Linked DNA regions of Homo sapiens: region 2 is linked to region 1. Evidence: fine-mapped expression QTL. A gene starts in region 1. The other region holds a variant in brackets. All regions are shown on one strand. Distances are from middle to middle.

Region 1 (5,382 bases):
TCCTTCCTTCTTAAGGCTAAATAACACTCCATAATATGGATGTACCACATTTTGTCTGTCCACCTTTGAACTGAGATCTGAAAAATGAGAAGGGGCCATGCAAGAACTAGAAGAAGAACGTTACAAGCAGAGGAAAGAACATGTGCAAAGGCCCTGAGATAGCAATAAACTGGTTGGTGGTCTAGGCCAGTGTTGTCAGAATATATTAATAGTAGAGAAAAGTGCCTGGAAAGAATGGTATTAAATGGGATCAGAGATAGACATACATTGGCCGTATTATTTTAGGCTTTGAAAGACCTTGGCTTTTAAGTGGAGTGAGAAGCTGCTTATTAGGAAGTTTTAAGTGGGGGAGTGACTTAATCTGATTTCCATGTAACAGCAAAAGCAAAAATCACCCAGACTGCTGTGTGGACAAGCATCCTTGTGGATTCTAATGCAAGTCTGTGATCGGACTTTGAGAAATACTAATTTAGTCCTTAAGTCAGTATCCTGAGATAGCTGATTTCAAAAGAGCTCTCTCAGGGCTTCTGACCAAAAGTGACAGATTGGCTACACCTGTACATCTCTTCTTATTTCCTAATCCCTGCCTAAATGGAAGAAAGAAATCAGAGACTGGGAGAGGTTACAACAGGAGACAGAAGCTGCTATACCTCTTTCAAATAAGCAGATGGACAGGTAGTGACTGACTTTGCAGAGGAATCACACAGTACCTGTAAGTGCACAAAAATACCTGTAAGAAATGCAGTACTGTGTTTGTCCGAAGCTCCCAAGAGTCTCAGCATTTGGAGGCACCAGATACTAAGGAAGATAGGGGTCAGAAATGGAGCTGAAAACAGGGGAGCTGGTCGGAAAATCTGTGTACACTGACAGGTGGACCCCTACGATTTTCTCCCTATGTGCCCTTGTGGATGGGTGAGTCCCTTCACTACCAACTCCCTGGCCTCAGGAGAACAAGGTTTATTCTTTGCAAAATTAATGAAGAGCTGTCTGGACTTTGAAACCAGGGGCCGTGGATTGTTGCTTGGTTTAAAACAAGGAGATCGGCCGGGCGCGGTGGCTCACGCCTGTAATCCCAGCACTTTGGGAGGCCGAGGCGGGTGGATCACGAGGTCAGGAGATCGAGACCATCCCGGCTAAAACGGTGAAACCCCGTCTCTACTAAAAATACAAAAAATTAGCCGGGCGTAGTGGCGGGCGCCTGTAGTCCCAGCTACTTGGGAGGCTGAGGCAGGAGAATGGCGTGAACCCGGGAGGCGGAGCTTGCAGTGAGCCGAGATCCCGCCACTGCACTCCAGCCTGGGCGACAGAGCGAGACTCCGTCTCAAAAAAAAAAAAACCAAAAAAAAAAAACAAAAAAAAAAAACAAGGAGATCAAGGGAAACCTACGCCTGAACTATAGAAGTGTTAGCTCTCTTCCTCTGCTCTCCTTCCAGAACTGCACAGTCAAGCCTGTCCTATCCTTCTCCTGTGGAAGACTGAAGATAACAGCATCTTCAGATACTGATAGGCTTTCTGCTGAGAGTACCTTAAGTGAATTCTACCAGTCGTTAAGCCCTGTTTTCCCACACAGATCTTTCAGTTAGTTCTTTTCAGGGGCTTATTCTTAAATATGAGCAAACAATCTAACACCATTGGTCATCTGGGGGAAGACTCCAACATTAAAAAAAAAAAAAAGTAGACATAGAGAGGTGGAGAGGGAGTGATACTTGGAACACTGGGAGAAAACAGATACCATAAGGGATCAAAAGAAAACTTTAAAAATCTCCAGTATTATCAGAGAAGACATGTATTTCCTTCCCCACTTAAATGATAGTGAACACATATAAAAGCAGAAATCCATGAGGGTAAAGAGAACGAGATGAGAGATGACAGCAGGCAAACAACGTCAACTAAATATTGGAAGCTGAGAACCTGGTGCGTGAGTGGTAACAGAATTTAGCAGAGCTGAGAAAGCAGAAAGTCCTATGGTGTGGGTAGTTGTGCAAAAACTGGTATTCTTTTAATTAATGATGTGCTTTGCTCTATTTGGACTGCTGGGTTCTTATTTTTGAGCAGTATGCTCTCTCCCAGTTGAAGCTGTTAATGGGCTGTCCACCAATGGAGAAATCAGAATGATTAAAATGTAGTTCTTGTATTTTTATGGTTCTCTTAAGCAGTCATGCATTATACTCTTCTTCTTGTGTCTGAGCCAACATTTCATAGGAGTAGATAACACCCATTTCTGGTGGCACTGACAGCAGGGTTGAAAAGAATGTTATAAAAGAAAATATGAATAACATTTAACTTAAGAATATGTTCCAAATTTTGTTTGTAAAGTAGTTGTTTAAAACTTGGTAGTTCTTTTTGATATAATGTTATAAATGGCAGTTATCCTAGACCAAACTTTAAAATATGTTTCATTAGCAATTAAATGGGCATTTGTAAGTTCCCAGGGAAACCTAATCACATTGTATAGTATTTTTTAATGAAGAAACACTAGCTGGGTACAGTGGCTTATGCCTGTAATCCCAGCACTTTGGGAGGCCAAGGTAGATGAATAGCTTGAGTCCAGAAGTTTGAGACCAGCCTGGGCAACATGGTGAAACCTCATCTCTACAAAAAATACAGAAAAATTAGGTGGGCATGGTGGCTTGCGCCTGTAGTCCCAGCTAATTGGGAGGCTGAAGCGAGAGGATCACCTACGCCTGGGAGGTTGAGGCTGCAGTGAGCTGAGCCATGATCGTGCTACTGCACTGTACCCTGGGTGACAGAATGAGACCCTGTCTCAAAAAAAGAAAAAATGCTTTTTAATGGTAAAATGGCTACATGGATTTAGATTTAGACTTGAATTCAAGTCCTACTTCTACCATTTTTCTGCTATGTAACCATAAGTAAATTTCTAATGTTTCTGGGTCTCAGTAGAATGAGAATAATATCTAATCAGAGGGTAGTTGTGATGATTAATGGATGTTAAAGTAGATGAGCTACTCAGTCGAGCTCCTAGACCCTAGGGAGTCAATAAATAGTCGGTTTTCTTCACCCTTTTTTTTTTTTTTTGAGACAGTTTTGCTCTGTTGTTGAGGCTGGAGTGCAGAGTGCAGTGGTGCGATTATAGCTCACTGCAGCCTTGATCTCCTGGGCTCAAAGGATCCTCCCTTCTAAGCCTCCTGAGGAGCTAGGGCTACAGGTGTGCACCATTGTGTCTGGCTAATTTTATTTTTTTATAGATACAGGGTTTCACTGTGTTGCCCAGGCTGGTCTTGAACCCCTGGCCTCAAGAGATCCTCTCACTTCAGCCTCCCATAGCATGTGGGATTATAGGTGTGAGCTACTGTGCCCAGCTGTTGTTTTCAGTTTTACTCTTCTGTGGTATGTGGTAAGAGGGAGCATTTGTTTTCTAGAGCCTGCAGCATGTGTGGGTCAGTTGAAAATGTATAAAAATTTTGAGTTACGCACGGTGGCTTGTGCCTGTAATCCCAATACTTTGGGAGGCTGAGGAGGGAGGACTGCTTGTGCCAGGAGTTTAAGACTAGCCTGGGCAACATAGTGAGACCCTGTCCCTAAAAATATGTAAAAAAAATTTTAAAATAAAAATTTTGAAATGCAATTTGTGTCTTAAAATTCTGCCTTATTTATTTGCAACGTGTGTTTCTTGTCATGTATTTGCTGCTGTATGCTGGTAGAAAAAGCATAGAGAGTGGACTCAGGCAGTCCATGCTCTAGCCTCCTGTTCTACTCTGAACTAGATGTGTGACATTGTAAGTGCTGCTGCTTCACTTCGGGTGTTACTCCTGATTTGCACAGTGAAAAGTGTTTTATTACAAGATGATTTCTAGAAGTTTGTTTCTGTTCTGACATTAGATGACCTGTGATATGTGAAGCTTAAGACATCTTTTTTCATTACTGGGTTTATACGGGGTGTTGAGGCTTGTGATACATTTACTGTTATAAATTCATTTTAATGTGTTTGGAGGACTTGAGATGATTGGAGATTATTAGATTGATAGCTGATGTTTGGCTTTATTATTGGAAAATAGTTCTAGCTACGAAACCTGTTTTTGAGTGAAAGTATGCTAGGAATGGCCATTGCTTTTCTTCCTACAGAGATAAGTGATCTCTTGGTGTTGTACACATGAAGCTCTCACCTTTATTTTTAAAGTCATGGATTTTACCTTGGCTCCTATAAACTCTTCTCCCCTCCCCCATGTAGCTGTAAGCATTCCTACTCCTAGGATGATTTGGAATGTGTGTGTTTCAAATCATGTTTAGTGATTGTAAGGCTAATCTCAGCTTAATTATCACTGCCAAAGGAATCCTCTGACCCCCAGGGCCAGATCATGTTGTTTGCTTTCATGGTATATTTTTCCCTTTTCATAGTCCGGGTTATATATATAGATGTATAATTCCATAATATCTTGTCAGCAAAACTGGAAGCTCTGGGAGGGCAGTGACTGTATCTCTTTTGCTGACTTTTATCTATAATGTCGGGCACATGATTGGCAGCATTGGAGACATATTTTTGAGTTAAGTGAATAAATTGTTTCCCCACAAATAATAAATTAATAGAAATTTAATGGTAAAAGCTCAAAATGTTTATTAGAATCATGATGGTAGCCTTTGTTATTACCAGTGAATTTAAAAGGAAAGAATAACCAAGGTGTTTGTATAAATGACTTATTATTGTTTGTGCAAGAACAGTGAACGTTCCCTAGTACAGGAAGCAGCTTTAAAAAACTGCTGGCAGAACTAAGAAGTCAGACTGTCCTTGACCCCTAGATCAAATGTTTTTGAGCCTGAGTTTCCTTAAATCTTCTTCAGTTGAGAATAAACATTTTGACAAAATAGAAGATTTATTCTGTTAATTTTTGGTCTTCATAAACCTAACTAAATTTGCTAAAACAACAAAAACTTTCTAATTTTTACTAGTTTTGTTTTTTAAAAAGTTTGTTTCCTTTTAAGTGCATAACACTTTAAAATGAGCTCAGCTGTATTAGCAGATAAACATGTTGATTCATTTGGTCCAGAGCTACTGAATGAAGCTTGCAGGAGCACAGTTTGTTCTTTATGCCGCCCAGGGGCAGAATGTTTCTCTTCCTCTCCTCCTTATTGAGAGAAGGGGACTGGAATAAGTGACTCCTCTTATTTAGGTTTGCCTGAATTGTTGACGAGGGAAGGGGGCAAGATTTCTTCACCATTTATCCTTCGTCTCATTTAAATTCTGTTCATTAACATAAAGTATATGCACTCATACTGTGATATACATGTTGAATTATTAGTGTCATATATTTACAGTTTTTACAAAACCATTTTACTTAATGCTCTGGTTTGAGTAATCTGTTGTTTAAAGGTATAATGAATCAGAGTTGTTTTTAGGCGTATTGCGTTTTTGAGGATGGACTTAAT
Region 2 (5,382 bases), 190 kb after region 1:
GCTGCCAATGCTTGGGGCTTGCACCCTCTGAAGCAATGGCCTGAGCTGTACATTGGTCCCTTTTAGCCACAGCTGGGACTGAAGCAGTTGGGATGCAGGGCACCATGTCCCAAGGCTGCACAGAGCCGGGTTGGGGGGCCCTGCTTTTGGGCCCTGGCCCTGGCCCACAAAACTGTTTTTCCCTCCTAGGCCTCTGGGCCTATGATGGGAGGGGCTGCTGCAAAGGTCTCTGAAATGCCCTGAAGACATTTTCTCCTTTGTCTTGGTGATTAACATCTGGCTCCTTGTTACTTATGCCAACTTTTGCAGTGGGCTTGAATTTCTCCCCACAAAATGGGTTTTTCTTTTCTATTGTATTGTCAGGCTGCAAATTTTGCAAACTTTTCTTCTCCGCGTTCTCTTCAATGCTTTGCCACTTAGAAATTTCCTCCACCAGATACCCCCAAATCATCTCCTTCAAGTTCAAAGTTCCTTAGATCTCTAGGGCAGGGGCAAAATGCCACCATTCTCTTTGGTAAAGCATAGCAAGAGTCACCTTTACTCCACTTACCAGTAAGTTCCTCGTCTTCATCTGAGGCCACCTCAGCCTGGACTTTATTGTCCATATCACTGTCAGCATTTTGGTCAAAGCTATTCAACAAGTCTCTAGGAAGTTCCAAACTTTCTCACGTTTTTCTGTCTTCTTTTGAGCCCTCCATACTGTTCCAGCCTTGCCTGTTACCTGGTTGGAAAGCTGTTTTTACATTTTTGGGTATCTTTACAGCAGCACCACACTCTCTGTGGTACCAATGTACTGTATTAGTCCATTCTCTGTTCTCATGCTGCTGTGAACTGCCCGAGACTGGGTAATTTATAAAGGAAAGAGGTTTAATTGACTCAGTTCTGCAGGGCTGGGGAGACCTTAGGAAACCTACAATCGTGGTGAAAGGGGAAGCAAACATGTCCTTCTTCACATAGGAGCAGGAGAGAGAAGTGCTAAGCAAAGGAGGAAAAGCCCCTTATAAAACCATCAGATTTCATCAGAACTCACTCACTATCAGCAGAACAGCATGGAGATAACCAGCCCTGTGATTCAATTACCTTCCAGTGGATCCCTCCCACAACACATTGGGATTATGGGAACTACAGTTCAAGATGAGATTTGGGTGGGAACACAGCCAAACCATATCTGCCTACCAGCAAGTTTCTCAGGCCATATCCCAGTTGTTAAGTAATGCATGACTGTATTTGGAGCACTAAAAATTTTTGATGAAAGTGAATTGTGAAAGAAATGTTGGCTGTGAAAAATCAGCCCTAACTTCTTACGGTCGTATTGGTACAATGGAATTTCATCATAGTTGCATGTAATTTATATGAATTCAAAGAAGTGGGCTCAATAAGATATAGCTGAGATAGACAAGTTGATTTAAATGATGTGATTATTCTGCTCTTTTTCTCAATTTCTCAATGAGTGTATTTACAGAGTGACCTTAGGATGAGAGATATAAATTTGCTATTCTTTACTCCTTGTTACTTCCTACTTTCCATGCATAGAGCTTCATGGAATATAAACTCTGGTGTTTTAAAATACAAAACTTACATAAAATGTCATTGAGTGCATTGTAACTGCAGGTGTTCATTTAAAGAAACTATTTTCTGGCCAGGCCTGGTGGCTCATGCCTGTAATTCTGGTGCTTTGGGCAGCTGAGATAGGAGGATTGCTTGAGGCCAGGAGTTTGAGACCAGCCTGGCGAACATGGTGAGATCCCGTGTCAAAAAAAAAAAAAAGTTAGCCATGTATGGTGATGTGTACCTGTAGTCCTAGTAAATTAATCAGGAAAGCTGAGGTGGGAAGTTCACTTGAGCCGAGGAACTCAGGGTTATAGTGAGCCATGGTTGTGCTACTGCACTCCAGCGTGGGCAACAGAGTGAGACCCTGTCTCTAAAGAAAATAAAAGAAAAAAGACTATATTATTGTACCAAAGATAGAAAACTGTCCTGGGTTTAACTATGTCGAGAGATGACAGTATGTTGGTCTCCAGTGTAATACCGTTCTAAGGAATGTTTGGGAGTGATTTGATTATTTTTGATACCTTATGGATTAACTTTATAATCTAGTACATTATCATTCATCTATTAAATAATGAGCAACTTCTGTGGGCTAGACCTCAGAAGATTCATAAATAAGGAAAACATACTATTTTTCCTTTGATGAGTGACTTACTGGGGAGATAGATGAGAAAATACTTGTATACACTGCAGTGACATGGTTGCTCTGATAATACTGGTTACTGTGCATGGAGAGAATGAGCACTTTAATGAACCTGAGGAGCAGAGGAAAGGAAAGCAAAGGGTGCCAGAGTAGGAAACTCTTCTTAAAAAGTGGTTGCTAGGCTAAGACGTAAGAATAACTATACATTATATCACTAAGGTTGGGAAGGAGAGCATTCCTACACAGGTAAAATGGCATGTGTAGAGTACACAGGAGCAGACAGGTTCCCCCACCCACCGAATATAGCACAGTGTGGATAATGCATAGAGTTCTGCAGAGGAAAGCCAGAGAGTCTGCACAGGTAGTCAGAATCACATTAAGACAGATCTTCACTCTCAAGTCATTTAGATGAAGGCAGTGGAGCATCATGGAAGAATTTCTTTGGGGGAAATGTTTAGAAAGAATACTTGGCAGTATAGAGGTTGAAGTAGAGAGGACAAAAGTGGAAGCAAGGAAAATACTTGGGAGGTTGCTGCAGTTAGAAGGTTTTCAGTAATTCACTTATAAAAATGATAAGGTTGTCGGATGTGGTGGCTCATGCTTGGAATCTCAGCACTATGGGAGGCTGAGGTGGGTGGATCACCTGAGGCCAGGAGTTTGAGACCAGCCTGACCAACATGGAGAAACCCCGTCTGTACTAAAAATACAAAATTAGCCAGGCCTGGTGGCGCATGCCTGTAATCCCAGCTACTTGGGAGGCTGAGGCAGGAGAATTGCTTGAACCTGGGAGGTGGAGATTGCAGTGAGCCTAGATTGCACCATTGTGCTCCAGCCTGGGCAACAAGAGCAAAACTCCATCTCAAAAAAAAAAAAAAAAAAGATTATTAATTGAAGCAGTGTTAGAAGGAAGCAAATTCTAGTAATATTTAGTTATTAGAATCACCAGGATTTAATGAATAAATATGCAGAGAAGTATCATATGATTTCCTGTTTGCTGCTTGGGGAATTGTGGATACTGGAGTATTTATAAAAATAGAAAACACAGGGAGAAGAATGAGTTCTTAAGCAGATCATGCTATATTTGAGGCACCTAGTGTGGCAGCCAAGGAGTGGGGAGAGTTAAATCAGAGATACAAATAGGCATCATGAGCAGT[G/A]TTAAAACCCAGGAAGTGAGGAAATATCCAATGTGAGGAAAGTATGTACAGTTAGAACATCAGTGGCCAAGGATGGTGCCTGGAAATGCCAGAGTAAGGCATGCTGTAGACACAGCTGTAGATGCAGTGAGACTAGTGCACAGGTGTAGAGGCAGAGAGAAGCCTAAGGAGGATCCTGGGCAGGAGGAGCCAGACAAGAGAAGCCTTAGAAGTTAAGGAGAGATTAGGTACAACAGAGTATATTAAATACTGTACAATGATAACTGAGAATTGTCCATTGGATTTGCCATCTAATAGTTCCTATGGAGACTACCAGGGATTCTTCCTTTTCTGGTTTGGTACAAGGTATGCACCTTGGCTGTAGTACAGAATGTAAAAGGGTTGGTTTGGAGCCCAGTAGAACAAGGTTGTAAGAGTGAGTTCAGTGCAATTTCAGTGGGGCATTTGTAGAACTGATTGTAAAATCTCTCTAATAATATGACCAATCACACTGCTAATATATCCAGGCAGCTCTCTTTTTATTCCTTAAATGTTACTAAATTTACATGAGAAGCAGAAAAATATCCTGGGAGAATAAAGTAGACAAAATTGACTAAGGAGGTGTTTTTGTTTTCTTTGGTTTAGGAAGTCTCTACTTAGGACTTGTTTCCAAAATCTTACTCATAGCTTCATTTATTTCAGGCTTATTTGTTGGACCTCTGCAAATCTCTCTCAAGTCTGAAGTTTCCTGAAGTTAAAGATTCATTAGGGGAGTAAAGGAAAATCATTGTGTAGAAATGCTATTCATCTGATAAATTCTTCACATTCCTCTATTTTCTTTATGTAGGTTGTAATGAAGCTAACAGTTTCAGTTATGTACTACTATTTTTGTCCATACTTAGTTCATTGTAAACTCTATATTAATTTCTTTGATAACATGTATTTGATTTTTTTGCAATACGGCTTTCAGGTTCTTGCCATTCTTGAGATTCTCATGCTTATTCAGATTTCTCATTTGGCTGGCATTTTGTTATCAGTGAACCAAAATTATCTCATTTTAAATTCACATAAGACAAAAGCACCAGTAGTCAGTATTCTAGTTCTCCTTACTAATTTACGGAGGTGTGATCTGGGTGATTTTTAAATTAATTTAATTATCATTTCATATTCATAGTGATGATTTTTAAAATTTTACAAAGTTTTCAGGTATATAAACATCTTTATTGTCAGGTGTCTGACAAGCTAATTTCTTTGCTAACTATTTTAGTTATTAATATATTATGTAGGTTGTATCAGAATTTTGTTTTTCACCCAATGCTTTTTCAAAATTCCCAAGTCAAGAAGGATGCATTACAATGTTTACATTAGCATCTAAAGGCAATGTAAAGTCGGGAAGCATTTTTAGTATATAATTTCATAATTCAAAGACATTTTTAAAAAATGAATGGTTAAACCAGTATCTCACTGCATTAAATGTAATTGAATGCATTGAATTTAGTTATTAGGAGATGTTATTACAAGCCTCAACATGTAACATGCTTGCTTACAAATCTAAAATCTCAGATCAAGTGGCTGGAACTGCAGGGGCCTGCCAGGCATCTGGGTATTTACATGATTCCTTTCCATGTGGTTATGGCAGAGCATGGCCATTTCAAGGTAGTCAAACTTCTTACACAAAGGCTGGCTTACCACAGAGTGGGTATTTCAAGGGAGGGAAAACAGAAGAAGCAACATATGTATAATTGGAAACCCTGAGGAGGAAAAAGAGGGCAGTGACACAAAACAGTATTTAAATATCAAAAACTATAATCTGAAAACATACTTACAGGCTTTTGTGTTCTCCATTTTTCACTTAGCATAATACTTTTAAAATTTATAGATACTGTTCCATATATCAGTAGTTTGTTTCTTTTTATGGCTTTGCTCCGTTGTGTGATGTACAGTCATATGTTTATATAGTTGCCCCTGGATAGACGTTTGGGTTCTTTACATTTTGGGCCTATTAGAATAAAAGCTCGTGAATATTCCAGTACAAATCTGTGTGTGAATATATATTTT

Which allele goes with the higher level. Alleles are on the strand shown, and positions count from the first base shown. SD is a standard deviation of normalised expression in the study named.
For the expression in thyroid of the gene that starts at base 2,413 in region 1, allele A in region 2 goes with a lower level than allele G (moderate effect, 0.75 SD a copy in GTEx).

Evidence for each region.
Region 2: its variant is fine-mapped to the expression of AKT3-IT1 in thyroid (GTEx, PIP above 0.99).

Annotation. Positions count from the first base shown.
Region 1 is chr1:243,791,431-243,796,812 of GRCh38, reverse strand. AKT3-IT1 (AKT3 intronic transcript 1) reads left to right here and starts at 2,413. Exons shown (of 2, transcript NR_046761.1): 1 at 2,413-2,553; 2 at 3,233-3,608. The region is part of intron 2 of AKT3 (AKT serine/threonine kinase 3); the gene reads left to right.
Region 2 is chr1:243,601,583-243,606,964 of GRCh38, reverse strand. The region is part of intron 8 of AKT3 (AKT serine/threonine kinase 3); the gene reads left to right. Among named protein-coding and RNA genes, the nearest start is that of AKT3-IT1, 190 kb to the left of the region's middle. The variant G/A (reference allele first, on the strand shown) is at 3,346.